Linked DNA regions of Homo sapiens. The protein of the gene in region 2 binds, or shares a complex with, the protein of the main gene of each other region. Each region holds a gene or a part of one and is shown on either strand. Other genes may lie near its edges. The genes, in order: RAET1L and KLRC4-KLRK1. A codon is read from its position in the direction of its gene.

Region 1 (4,990 bases), on a different chromosome or scaffold from region 2:
TCTTGCTAGAGAGGCCTGGCACCTTTCTAGCAAGGTCATGTGTTGACTGATGTGGGCAGAGGGGCAGTGGGACATGTCTGGGGACATGTGGTTTCTCAGCAGACAGAGACTTCCTCCTCCTCCTCCTCCTTGTCCTCATGCAAGGGGCGAGCACTCGCCTTAAACTTGTAGACACCACAGTTCTGGAGGGGGCACTCCTTCCTGGGCCAGCCCAGCCTGCCAGAGGCATCCTCTTATTGACACAGCGTGGAGGGGGGCTAACTAGGGGTCTTTTCCTCCCCACCCACCCCTCACCTGCCTTTCTCCACAGACCCTCACTCTCTTTGCTATGACATCACCGTCATCCCTAAGTTCAGACCTGGACCACGGTGGTGTGCGGTTCAAGGCCAGGTGGATGAAAAGACTTTTCTTCACTATGACTGTGGCAACAAGACAGTCACACCCGTCAGTCCCCTGGGGAAGAAACTAAATGTCACAATGGCCTGGAAAGCACAGAACCCAGTACTGAGAGAGGTGGTGGACATACTTACAGAGCAACTGCTTGACATTCAGCTGGAGAATTACACACCCAAGGGTAAGTTTCAGATGGCCCAGGACAGCAGGGAGCAGATACAGTGGTAGGTTAGAGGCATTTATAGTTTTCATGTAAAAATACAAAAGGGTCCTGGGCACGGTGGCTCACGCCTGTAGTCCCAGCACTTTGTGAGGTAGAGGTGGGCCGATCACAAGGTCAGGAATTCGAGACCGCCTGACCAACATAGTGAAACACTGTCTCTACCGAAATGCAAAAATTAGCCAGGCATGGTGGCGCATGCCTGTAATCCCAGCAACTTGGGAGGCTGAGGCAGGAGGATCCCTTGAACCCGGCAGGCAGACGCTGCAGTGAGCCGAGGTGGTGCCATTGCACTCCAGCCTGGGCAACAGAGTGAGACTTTGTCTCAAAAAAAAAAAAAAAAGCCAGGTGCAGTGGCTCAAGCCTGTAATCCCAGCATTTTGGGAGGCTGAGGTAGGCGGATCACAAGGTCAAGAGATCGAGACCATCCTGGTTAACACAGTGAAACCCTGTCTGTACTAAAAATACAAAAAAATAGCCGGGTATGGTGGCGGGCGCCTGTAGTCCTAGCTACTTAGGAGGCTGAGTGAGCCGAGATCGCGCCACTGCACTCCATCCAGCCTGGGTGACAGAGCGAGACCCTTTCTCAAAAAAAAAAAAAAAAATACAAATGGGAAGGTCATCTTACCCCTCAAGAGTCTAGAGGCAAGGCCAAGATGTAGCAGAGAGAGTAAGGCCAGCAAATTGTAAGGGGAACAGGATGGGGGTGCAAAATTTGTCAAGATCAGAGCTGATCTCTCTCTGATGGGGGCAGAACCCCTCACCCTGCAGGCAAGGATGTCTTGTGAGCAGAAAGCTGAAGGACACAGCAGTGGATCTTGGCAGTTCAGTATCGATGGACAGACCTTCCTACTCTTTGACTCAGAGAAGAGAATGTGGACAACGGTTCATCCTGGAGCCAGAAAGATGAAAGAAAAGTGGGAGAATGACAAGGATGTGGCCATGTCCTTCCATTACATCTCAATGGGAGACTGCATAGGATGGCTTGAGGACTTCTTGATGGGCATGGACAGCACCCTGGAGCCAAGTGCAGGAGGTAACAGGAGAAAAAGAAACGGGGATCTTAAATGAGATCAGAAATGGGGATCTCAAGAAGTTAGTTCTTGAGTTCAGCTTCAATCATCCCAGTGTACACGTTTATGTTAAAATGACCTCCTCGTCGGGCCCTCCTCCTGGGGTTACTGGCATGCCTGTGCCCTCCCACCCTCCTCTTCCTTCTCCCTCCTGACTCCTATTCCTCACTGCACTTGCTTCTGCTCCCCACACTGTGGATTTCTCACCAGCCTTGAAACTGCAGGTGTCACTGTTTTCAGAACTTTTTCCTTAGTGTTTCCTCTTTTGAGAATCACTTTTCCTTTCCTTTCCCTGGTCTGGTTCTGGAAATCCATCAAAACCACTTCCAACACCAGCCAGAGATCCTCCCCTCCCCAACTCTGGGGCATCACCTCCTCTTCCCCCACAGCAGGAGGGTGGGGTGTGTTGTCACCTTGCTTCCCTCAGCAGCTGTGTGAGCTCCCTGAGGACAAGACACACCCCGTCTCCCTTCCTAAGCCAGGACCTGTCATACTGGCTGCCCCACACCAGGGGGGAGGGGACAAAACTTTTGCCTTCCAGGATGACCTAGGGTGGCAGGAACTGAGGAGGTGTCTCCTCAGATTTGGGGCCTGGACAAGGGTTGTCACTTTTGTGTTTCCATTTCAGCACCACTCGCCATGTCCTCAGGCACAACCCAACTCAGGGCCACAGCCACCACCCTCATCCTTTGCTGCCTCCTCATCATCCTCCCCTGCTTCATCCTCCCTGGCATCTGAGGAGAGTCCTTTAGAGTGACAGGTACTGTGGGCAGAATTGGAAGTGGAGCAAGGAGCAGGTGGGTGAGGAGGCAGGATGGGGAAAGAGAATTCCCGGAGTCCCGCCCCTCCCCGTGGCTGGGACCTTCTCATCCTAACATGAGACAGGTGAATGAGACCTTGTGTTGCCTGTTGGCAATGTTGGCAATGACCTGGGCAGCTCAGCCCTGAGTTCTGATGGTTTCTCACCTTCAGAGTCCAGAGGGAAAGGGAGGGGCCCATACCAAGGCTCAGGGTCTGTTGAGCTTGAGAAGGTTTAGCAAGTTCAGGCCTGATTCAGAGCAGGTTCCTATTCAGGAAGGGTGTGTGGCCTGCAGGCAGCAGGAATTCAGACATGGGCAGTCCTCTTAATTGGGTTAGGTGCATCATGGTAGCTTTACATGAGGTGTGACAGGGGAAGGGGGATTCCATCTCTGAGGCTAAGAGAGATCTGGGTGTAATCCCAGGAGGAGGGGGCTGGGAGAGCCTTGGTACACCTAATTGAAAAGGAGGGAGTGCAGGGCTGCCTTCCCACAGAAAGTAGGTGGAAGGTGAAGAGTAGAGGCTGCTCAAGAGAAGGATTTTTAAAAAGTCAGTCCCATGTACCCGTGGGGTTTGAGTCTGGGCCCTGAGGCAGCTCCCCTGCCATCACACTCCTGCACACCCCAGATCCTGAGCCCAGTCATAGCCCTGCCAGGAGCAGAGTGGACTCAGAGGAAGGAGCATCTGAGCTGCTGCTGGGGTTCCACGGGCACCACTGGGCTGGATAAGGAATGGAAAAGGTGGAACAGGGACAGTCACCTTCAGAACTATGGGTGCTGCTCCCAGTGTGAGGTGATGCTCAAGAAGAAGGGGAAAGAAGGATGTTTGCCTGCAGGCCCACCAAAGGCCAAGGGCACAGGAATACAGAGCCCTCTCTTTGGAAGTCTGTCCCACCCCTTGCCATGTTTTAGACCCTGTCATCAGATGATAAAGAGGGCCTTGAGTGAGGGAGCGGACCCATCACTACCAGCTTCAGACCTGTGGGCCCCTCCACTCCATCCCCTGGTCAGGTGCAGGGCCTGGGCTGACTCTGTGATGTGACAAAGGAGGAAAGAGGTAGGTCCAAGCTGCAGTCGCCAGGGTTGGGGCTCAAGGGAAAAATAGGTCCCTTAGTGCAGGGGGCTCTGAGACATAGAGTGACTAGGGAAAGATTACCGTGGAAAAGTGATCCGGGTTCTCTGCCTCTTAAACCAACATTTGGGTCCTTTCTGAAGGTTAAAGATGATACCAAAAAGCCCCTGTGAGCACGGTCTTGATCAACCTCGCCCTTCTGTCTGGCCAGCTGCCCACCACCTACGGTGTATGTCCAGCAGCCTCCAGCAGATGATGATGACACCATGGACCCAATAGCTCATTCACTGCCTTGATTCCTTTTGCCAACAATTTAACCAGTGATTATTCCTAACATATTATGCAATTTTCTCTTGGTGCTACCTGATGGAATTCCTGCACTTAAAGTTCTGGCTGACTAAACAAGATATGTCAACATTTTCTTTCTTCTCTTTTTGTTTGGAAAATCAAGTACTTCTTTGAATGATGATTTCTTTCTTTCATTACTGACATGATTGTCAGTAAAACAATCATGTTAGACTTCAGACCTCCAGGGATTCTTTCCATGTCCTGAAAGAGAATTGTTTAATTATTTAATAAGAAAAAAATTTATATTAATGATTGTTTCCTTTAGTAATTTATTGCTGTGTACTGATATTTAAATAAAGAGTTATATTTCCCAAAAACCTACTGAGTTTAGAATTTTGTTGTATTACTCAGTAGAGAATTAATGTTATTTCATTTTTCCTCCATGATATGGAGTAATAAATGAGTGATTCTGCCAGACTTTGTGTGGAAAAAGAGAATCTACAAAACATGGCTGAAAAAAATCAGAGACAAAACAAATACATGGAAAAATATTTCATGCTCATGGGTTGGAGAATCAATATAGCTAAAATGGCCATACTTCCAAAAGCAATTTATAGATGCAACACTATCTCTATCAATACCAATGTCATTTTCCACAAAATTAGACAAATCTAATCTAAAAGTTCTTTGGAGTTAAAAAAGAGCCCAAATAGCCAAAACAATCATAAGCAAAAAGAACAAAGCCAGAGACACCACATAGCCTGACTTCAAACTATAATATAAGGCTACAGTGATCAAAACAGAATGGTACTGGTACCAAAATAGACACTTAGATCAGTGGAACAGAATAGACAGCTCAGAAAGAAACCTTCACACCTTTTAACTTTCAACAAAATCAACAAAAAAAGCAATGAGGAAAGAGTCCTAATTCAATAAATGGTGCTGGGATAACTGGCTAGCCATGTGTAGGAGAACGAAACTGAACCTCTACCTTTCACCATATATGTAAAATAACTCGACATGAATTAAAGATTTAAATGTAAGTCCTAAAACTATAAAAATCCTGGAAGATAACCTAGGAAATGCCACTTTGGACATACAGCCTGACAAAGATATCATGATGAAGACACCAAAAGCATTTGCAACC
Region 2 (7,291 bases):
TATTAAAAACTAAGAAACAAATTATTAACAAATAGCATCTCTTTACAAGAATTAATTTAAGGAATGCAAAGTGCTATATGTAAAAATCCCTTTTTGGACTAAAATATTCAATTGTTACCAAAATTTAAAACACACATGCCCTTTCCCTCAACAATTATCATTGTGGGAATTTATCCCAGAGAGAGACTCAAAAATATGCACAGATGGGTATGAAATGTATCATTATTTCTCATAGCAAGACCTAAGAAACAATTTAAATATCCACTGGAAAAAAAAATTGACAGTCCGTCAAAAATTAGATCTGTCCAGAGTTGTCAGTGAAATACAATGCAGCTATTTATAAATTTGGTATCCTTATACGCCATGAGGACTAATCACCAGGATATTGTCTTAGGTAAAAAAAAAAAAAAAATTCATAGGATATTTTGTGTATTATAGTTTCTTTAAAATGTATTTTTAATATGTAGTTAAGGGGAACGGTAATTTTTGTTTATTTTTAGTTGGCATGTAATAATTATACATATTTATGGGATACAGTGATATTTCCATTCAACTATACAATGTCTAATGACCAAATCAAGGTAATTAGCACACCCATCACCTCAACATTTATCACTTCTTTGTGTTGGGAACATTCAAAACCTTCTCTTCTAGCTATCTGAAAATATACAATAAATTACTCTTAACAGTACTCTCCCTACAGTGCTATAGAACACTAGAAAAATCCCGCATGTAGCTGTAATTTTGTATTCATTAACCAACCTCTCCCAATCTTCTCCTCCCCCCTATTCTTTCTAGCCTTAAATAACCACAATTCTACTCTCTACTTCTGTGAGCTAAAAGTTTGTATCTCCTACATATGAGTGAGAACATGTGGTATTTATCTTTCCATGCCTGATTTACTCTACGTAACATTATGTACTTCTGACTCATCCATGTTGGTGCAAATAATAGGATTTCATTCTTTTCATTCTTTTTTTTATGACTGAATGGTATTCCTCTGTGTGTGTGTGTGTGTGTGTGTGTGTGTCTGTGTGTGCTTAGCTATTTATCTGTTAATGGACACAGGTTAATTCCATATCTTGGCTATTGTGAATAATGCTGCAATAAACATGGGGGTGCAGACGTTACTTCAATATACTGATTTCCTTTCCATTGGAGAAAGACCCAGATTGCTGAGTCATATGGTAGTTATATTTTTAGTTTTTTAAGGGACCTCCATACTGTTTCCATAATGGCTATACTAATTTACATTCCCACCAAAATTGTATAAACATTAGCCTTTCCCTGCATCCTCACTGTCATTTGTTATTTTTTGTCTTTTTAAATAATAGCTATTCTAACTAGGGTGAGATGATATTCATTGTGGTTTTGATTTTCATCTTCTTGATGATGAATGATGTTGAATTTCAAAAAATATATCTGTGGCTATTTGTATATCTTCTCAGAAATATCTATTCAGATCCTTTGCTCATTTTCAAATCAGTTTTTGTTGTTGCTGTTGAGTTGTTTGAATTCCTTGTATATTCTGGATATTGGTCTCTTGTTAGAGGAATAGTTTGCGAGTATTTTCTCTTATTCTACAAGTTGTCTCTTCACTCTGTCAATTGTTTCCTATGCAGTAGAGAAGTGTGTTAGTTTGATACAATCTCATTTGTTTCTTTTTGCTTTTGTTGCCTGTACTTTTGAATTCTTACCCATAAAATCTTTGCCTAGACTAATGTCCTGTGGTGTTTCTCTTATCTCTTCTAGTAGTGTTATAGATTCAGTTCTTATATTTAAGTCATTAATCCATTTTGAGTTGATTTTTGTATATGGTGTGAGATGAGGGTCTAATTTCATTCCTCTATGTGGATATCCAGTTTTTTCAGCTTCATTTATTGAAGAGGCTCTCCTTTCCCAGTGTATGTTATTGGTGACTTTCTGGAAAAATCAGTTGGCTATAATACATGGATTTATTCCTGGGTTGTCTATTCTGTTTTATTGGTCTAGGTGTCTATTTTTATATCAATGCCATACTGTTTTGGTTGTTGTAGTTTTGTCGTATATATTGAAGTCAGGTAACGTGATGCCACCAGTTTTCTTCATTTTTGTTCAAGATTGCTTTGGCTATTCAGTCTTTTGTGGTACCATATAAATTTTAAGATATTTTTCTATTTCTGTAGAGAATGTTACTGGTATCGTGTTAGGAATTGCACTGAATCTGTAGATTGCTTTGAGTCATATGATTACTTTAACAATATTCTTTCTGTCTATGAACATGAGATGTCTTTCCATTTTTTTGCATCCTCTTTGGTTTCATTCATCAGTATTTTACAGTTTTCATTGTAGAGGTCTTTCACTTGTGTGATTAAATTTATTCCAGGGTATTTTATTATTTGTAGGTATTACAAATGGAATTGACTTCTTGATTTCTTTTTCATCCAGTTTGTTATTGGTGTATAGAAACACTACTGATTTTTGTATGCAGATTTTTGATCCTGAAACTTTACTGAATTTGTTTATTTGTTCAAAGGCATGTTGTTTAATTTTCATGTATCTGTGCAGTTTCCAAAGTTCCTCGTTATCAATTTCTAGTTTTATTCCATTGTTGTCAGAAAATTTACTTGATATAATATTGACTTTTGGAAATGTTTTGAGACTTATCACCTAGCATATGGTCTGTCCTGATGAATGTTCCATGTGCTGATAAGAAGAATGTGTATTTTGCAGCAGTTGGATGAAATGTTCTGTACATTTAGTTAGGTTCATTAGGTCTATATTATAGTTTTACTCTGATGTTTCTTTTATGATTTTCTGCCTGAATGATCTGTCCATTGCTTAAAATGTGTTGTTGAACTCCCCTGCCCTTATTGTATTCATCTATTTCTCCCTTCAGATCTATTAATATTTACTTAATATATCTGAGTGCTGTAATATTGGGTGCATATGTATACTTATAAATACTATATTATATTGCTGAAGTGACCCATTTGTCATTATATAATGGTCTTCTTTGACTCTTTTTTACTCTTTTTGACTTAAAGTCTATTTTATCTAAGTATAGCTGTGCCTGCTCTTTACTGGTTTTCATTTTCATGGAATATCTGTTTTCATCCCTATACAGTCAGTCTATGTGTGTTTTTATGAGCAAAGTGGGTTTCTTGTAGGCAATATATTGTTTGGTTTTTTTTGTTTTTAATCCATTCAGTCACTCTATGTCTTTTACTTGGAGAATTTAGCCCCCTTGCATTTAATATTATTATTGGTATGTAAGAACTTACTATTGCCATTTTGTTCCTTGTTTTCTAGTGGTTTTGTAAGTCTTCCTTTCTTCCTGTCTTCCTTTGTGATTAAGTTGCTTTCTCTGGCAGTGTATTTTAATTCCTTGATTTTCATTTTAGTGTATCTATTATAGGTTTTTGTTTTGTGGTTACTGTGAGACTTACAAGGACATCTTATAGCTTATAGCAATTATTTTATACTGATGACAGCTTAACTTTGATCACAAAGCAAAGAAAAACAAAACAACAAAAGAAAAAACTAAACAACTCTACACTTTAACTCCATCTCCTCTCACATGTTGACTTATGTTTGTATGGATTTACATCATTTTATATTGACTATCTCTTAATAAATTGTAATTACTATTATTTTGATAGAGTTGTCTTTTGGTCTTCATAAGATCTGAGTGGTTGAGGCACCACAATTACAGTATTAGAATATTCTGAATTTGTCTGTGTACTTACTTTTATCAGTGAGTTTTATACATTCAAATGTTTTCTTATTGCACATTTGTGTTCTTTTTTTTCTGACTGAAAAAACTCTCTTTAGCATATCATGTAAGACAGGTCTGGTGGTAATAAATTCACTCAACTTCTGTTTGCCTGAGAAATACTTTTTCTCTCCATCATGTCGATAGTTTTGCTGGGTACGGTATCTCAGTTGGCATTTTGTTTTCCTTGGGTCTTTGAATATGTCACCCCACTTCCTCTTGGCCTATAAAGTTTCTGCTAAGAAGTCTGCTAACAGATGTGTTGAAGCTTCTTTATATTTATTTTGCTTTTTAAATTTTGCTTCCTTTAAAATTCTCACTTTGTCTGGAGCTTTGAACATTTAAATTTTATATGTCTTGTGGTGATCTCATTTGGGTTGAATCTGCTTGCTAATCTTTGACCTTCCGGTATTTGGTTATTCATATCTTTCTCTGGGTTTGGAAAGTTTTCTGTTTGTCCACAGCCTCCCAGACCAGTGCTGTGCCAGGGCTTGCCCAAGGGCCATGGTTGCTATGGCCTGCAACCACTGAAATTTTCTTGGGACCAAGGCCACTTTAGTCAGCTGGTGATAAAGTGGGCTGAGACTAAGGTTCTTCCTGCCTAAGCAGTGGATTCACCTCTGGCCCACGGTGGGTCAAAATGCTCCCCATATGAGCACTGGTTTGGAATCAAGGGCCATGGGGTCTCTGTCTTTTGCTGTGTTCCAATGTGGTGGGGCCAGGTCTAAGTTCCGACACAAAGTCCCACACTCTTATTTCCATTTCCCAAGCAGGCAGTTTTTCTCTAAGCACTGCACTATCTGGGTTTGGAAGAGAGGCGTTTAGGCAAGGCAAGACCATCTTTTCTTACCTCTTTAATGTGTTTTTTCTCGTTATCATGCTAAAATCAGGGTACTGTGATAGCGCACCTAATTTCTTGAATTCTTTTGAAGGTATTTTCTTGCATGGATAATTATTTAATTTGATGTTTCTGTGAGAAGATAATCACTAAAGGGTTCTTCACAGCCAGCTTGCTCTTCTGCCATTTTCTTAATTGTTTTCTGATATACCTGTTGTTTTGCCTACCCATTGATTTTTTTCTCCTCTATCATTATTTATCTTTGTGGTTTGGTGGTTCTCTGTAGCCATAATGTTTGATTCCTTTCTCTTTCTTATTTGTGTATCTGCTCTACCAACCAGTTTTATACTTTTGTGTATTTTTATGATGATAGATATTGTCCTTTTGCTTCCAGATATAGGACTCCCTTAAGCATCTCTTGTGGGGCTAGTCTAGTGGTGATGAATTCCCTCAGTTTTTGCTTGTCTGGAAGAGTATTTCTCCTTTATTTCTAAAGGATAGTTTCGCTTAATACAGTATTCTTGTTTGGGAGGAGGTATTTTTTTTTTTTGGCATTTTGAATATATCATCCCATGCTTTTCTGGCCTGCTGCTGGAGAAAGTGGGATTGCTGGCAGTGGTGGCACTGGGCTCCAAGTGAGTGGCTCTGGGAATCTGGGGGGGCGCATGCATGACTCTCTCTATGCTGAGGACAGACTCTGTGCTTGGCTGCATCTCCTGTTCCCTGGGCATAGGGCTCTGTATAGGCTTGATGCAAGGGTCATGACTACACCTTTGGTTGGGATCACCTGGTGTGGCTATGCTACAGTCCTCTAGGTGGATTTGGTGGAATGTCAGCAGGGCCCCAGGGATGTGAAGATGCATAAGCTATTGGGCCCCAAACATGCGAAGATAAAGGAACTATTAGGCCCCAGGGCAGAGCGTACTTTGGTGGTGGCTACACTCTCAAAATGGTGCAGTGCTGCTGCAGCCTGTGTTCCAGAGAAGAGGAGGGACCCCAGTGTGAATTCCCACTCTGGAATAATGCAGTTATGTGGATGTCAGTGAACTCCCTATACTGGACTCAGGGATCGTGAGGAATGTGGAGCTCTCCTATACCTAGGATAGCAGGTATTTATAATGGGAATGTGGACTGCTGGGGAGCTCCTGTTTACCTTTTCTCCTCAGTGGAGAGTCCCTCTTGGCTCCAAGCTGATCCATGTCACCTGCTTCTCTTCCCTTTCTATGCTATCGCCCTGAGCATCTGTGCCTCAGAGAGACTTGGTCACTTTCTTGCTGAATTCCAGCCTTCTCCCTTCAACACTCTATTCAATGTGTGGTTATCTACTTGTTGTTTTGGTCCTTTGTGGAAGTGAGTGCTGGGTGCCTGTAGTTAGCCATCTTGATGATGCTTCCTCCTTCTTTATGTTTATTATTGTATCTGCATAAAAATAATAAATCACGGCCGGGTGCGGTGGCTCACGCCTGTAATCCCAGCACTTTGGGAGGCCGAGGCGGGCGGATCACGAGGTCAGGAGATCGAGACCGTCCTGGCTAACACGGTGAAACCCTATCTCTACTAAAAATACAGAACATTAGCTGGGAGTGGTGGCGGGCACCTGTAGTCCCAGCTACTCGGGAGGGTGAGGCAGGAGAATGGCGTGAACCCAGGAGGTGGAGCTTGCAGTGAGCCGAGATCGCGCCACTGCACTCCAGCCTGGGCGACAGAGCGAGACTCCGTCTCAAAAAAAAAAAAAAAAAAAAAAAACAATAACAACAAAAAATCATAAGCATAATTTACTCTAGGGATGACTGGGGAACTTGTAGAGAAGTATAGAAGGAAATATTACATTGTTGTACTCTAGTTTTTGATCATTTGCGAGGTATTTATGTTCTGTTCTGGAAAAAATTATTAAGGCAGAAAAAGGATCAATACCACCTTCTCATTTAAAAAACTCTAATATTTATATTAAATACAAAGATACCCAAACCTTTTATGCTTCTTTCTCTGATCTGTGTCTTTTTTCTTTGACAGCATCTCCATTTTTTTTCTGCTGCTTCATCGCTGTAGCCATGGGAATCCGTTTCATTATTATGGTAACAATATGGAGTGCTGTATTCCTAAACTGTAAGTGACAACAGAGAAGTAGATTGCAACATTGTCAATTTAACAATGCTAATGTATTATTTTTGTTAGTATTCATAAACACAGACACATAAACTAGAAATATTAAATGTATCTTTGTCACATTTTTGCTATTAGTCCAGAAATTTGTAAACTATATTTGCTTATACTATAAGTTACTAACAATACAAACTTTTAATACTTATGGTTATTTTAATAGCATTATTCAACCAAGAAGTTCAAATTCCCTTGACCGGTAAGTGAATTTTTAAAATATTTTAGATCATATATTATATGTATCTACCTACATTATTGTGTAGACATGTATTCCATGATTAAAAAAGGAAAAAGTAATTAATTCTAGTCTGTAATACACTATGGCTTCTGTTTTCCTTTTAACAATGAGGGAATACTTGTAAAAAGTAGAGGCTACTTAGGTTTGACATCATCTTTCTCTCTCTCTCTCTCTTTTTTTTTTTTTTTTTTTTGAGATGGGGTCTCACTCTGTCACCCAGGCTGGAGTGCAGTGGGGTGATCTCAGCACAATGCAACCTTCGCCTCCCAGTTTCAAGCAATTCTCATGCCTCAGCCTCCCA

What was found.
Region 1: the proteins of KLRC4-KLRK1 (region 2) and RAET1L are in contact, whole or in part, in a crystal structure (PDB 4S0U), measured with the Homo sapiens proteins. Residues at the interface, in NP_001186734.1 of Homo sapiens: Lys150, Ser151, Tyr152, Ile182, Met184, Lys186, Leu191, Lys197, Tyr199, Glu201, Asn207; in NP_570970.2 of Homo sapiens: Val93 (codon at 502), Glu103 (codon at 532), Glu154 (codon at 1,478), Asp177 (codon at 1,547), Met180 (codon at 1,556), Ser181 (codon at 1,559), His183 (codon at 1,565), Tyr184 (codon at 1,568), Ile185 (codon at 1,571), Met187 (codon at 1,577), Gly188 (codon at 1,580), Asp189 (codon at 1,583).

Annotation. Positions count from the first base shown.
Region 1 is NC_000006.12:150,017,564-150,022,553, reverse strand, and holds the end of RAET1L (UL16-binding protein 6 precursor), read left to right. Parts: intron 1-310; coding exon 311-574; intron 575-1,367; coding exon 1,368-1,649; intron 1,650-2,314; coding exon 2,315-2,424; 3' UTR 2,425-2,446; intron 2,447-3,698; 3' UTR 3,699-4,220; downstream 4,221-4,990. UniProt on the Homo sapiens protein: Binds and activates the KLRK1/NKG2D receptor, mediating natural killer cell cytotoxicity.
Region 2 is NC_000012.12:10,379,107-10,386,397, reverse strand, and holds part of KLRC4-KLRK1 (NKG2-D type II integral membrane protein), read left to right. Parts: intron 1-6,561; exon of another isoform or gene 6,562-6,605; coding exon 6,606-6,698; intron 6,699-6,915; coding exon 6,916-6,951; intron 6,952-7,291. Other genes in the region: KLRK1 (NKG2-D type II integral membrane protein), read left to right, coding at 6,606-6,698, 6,916-6,951.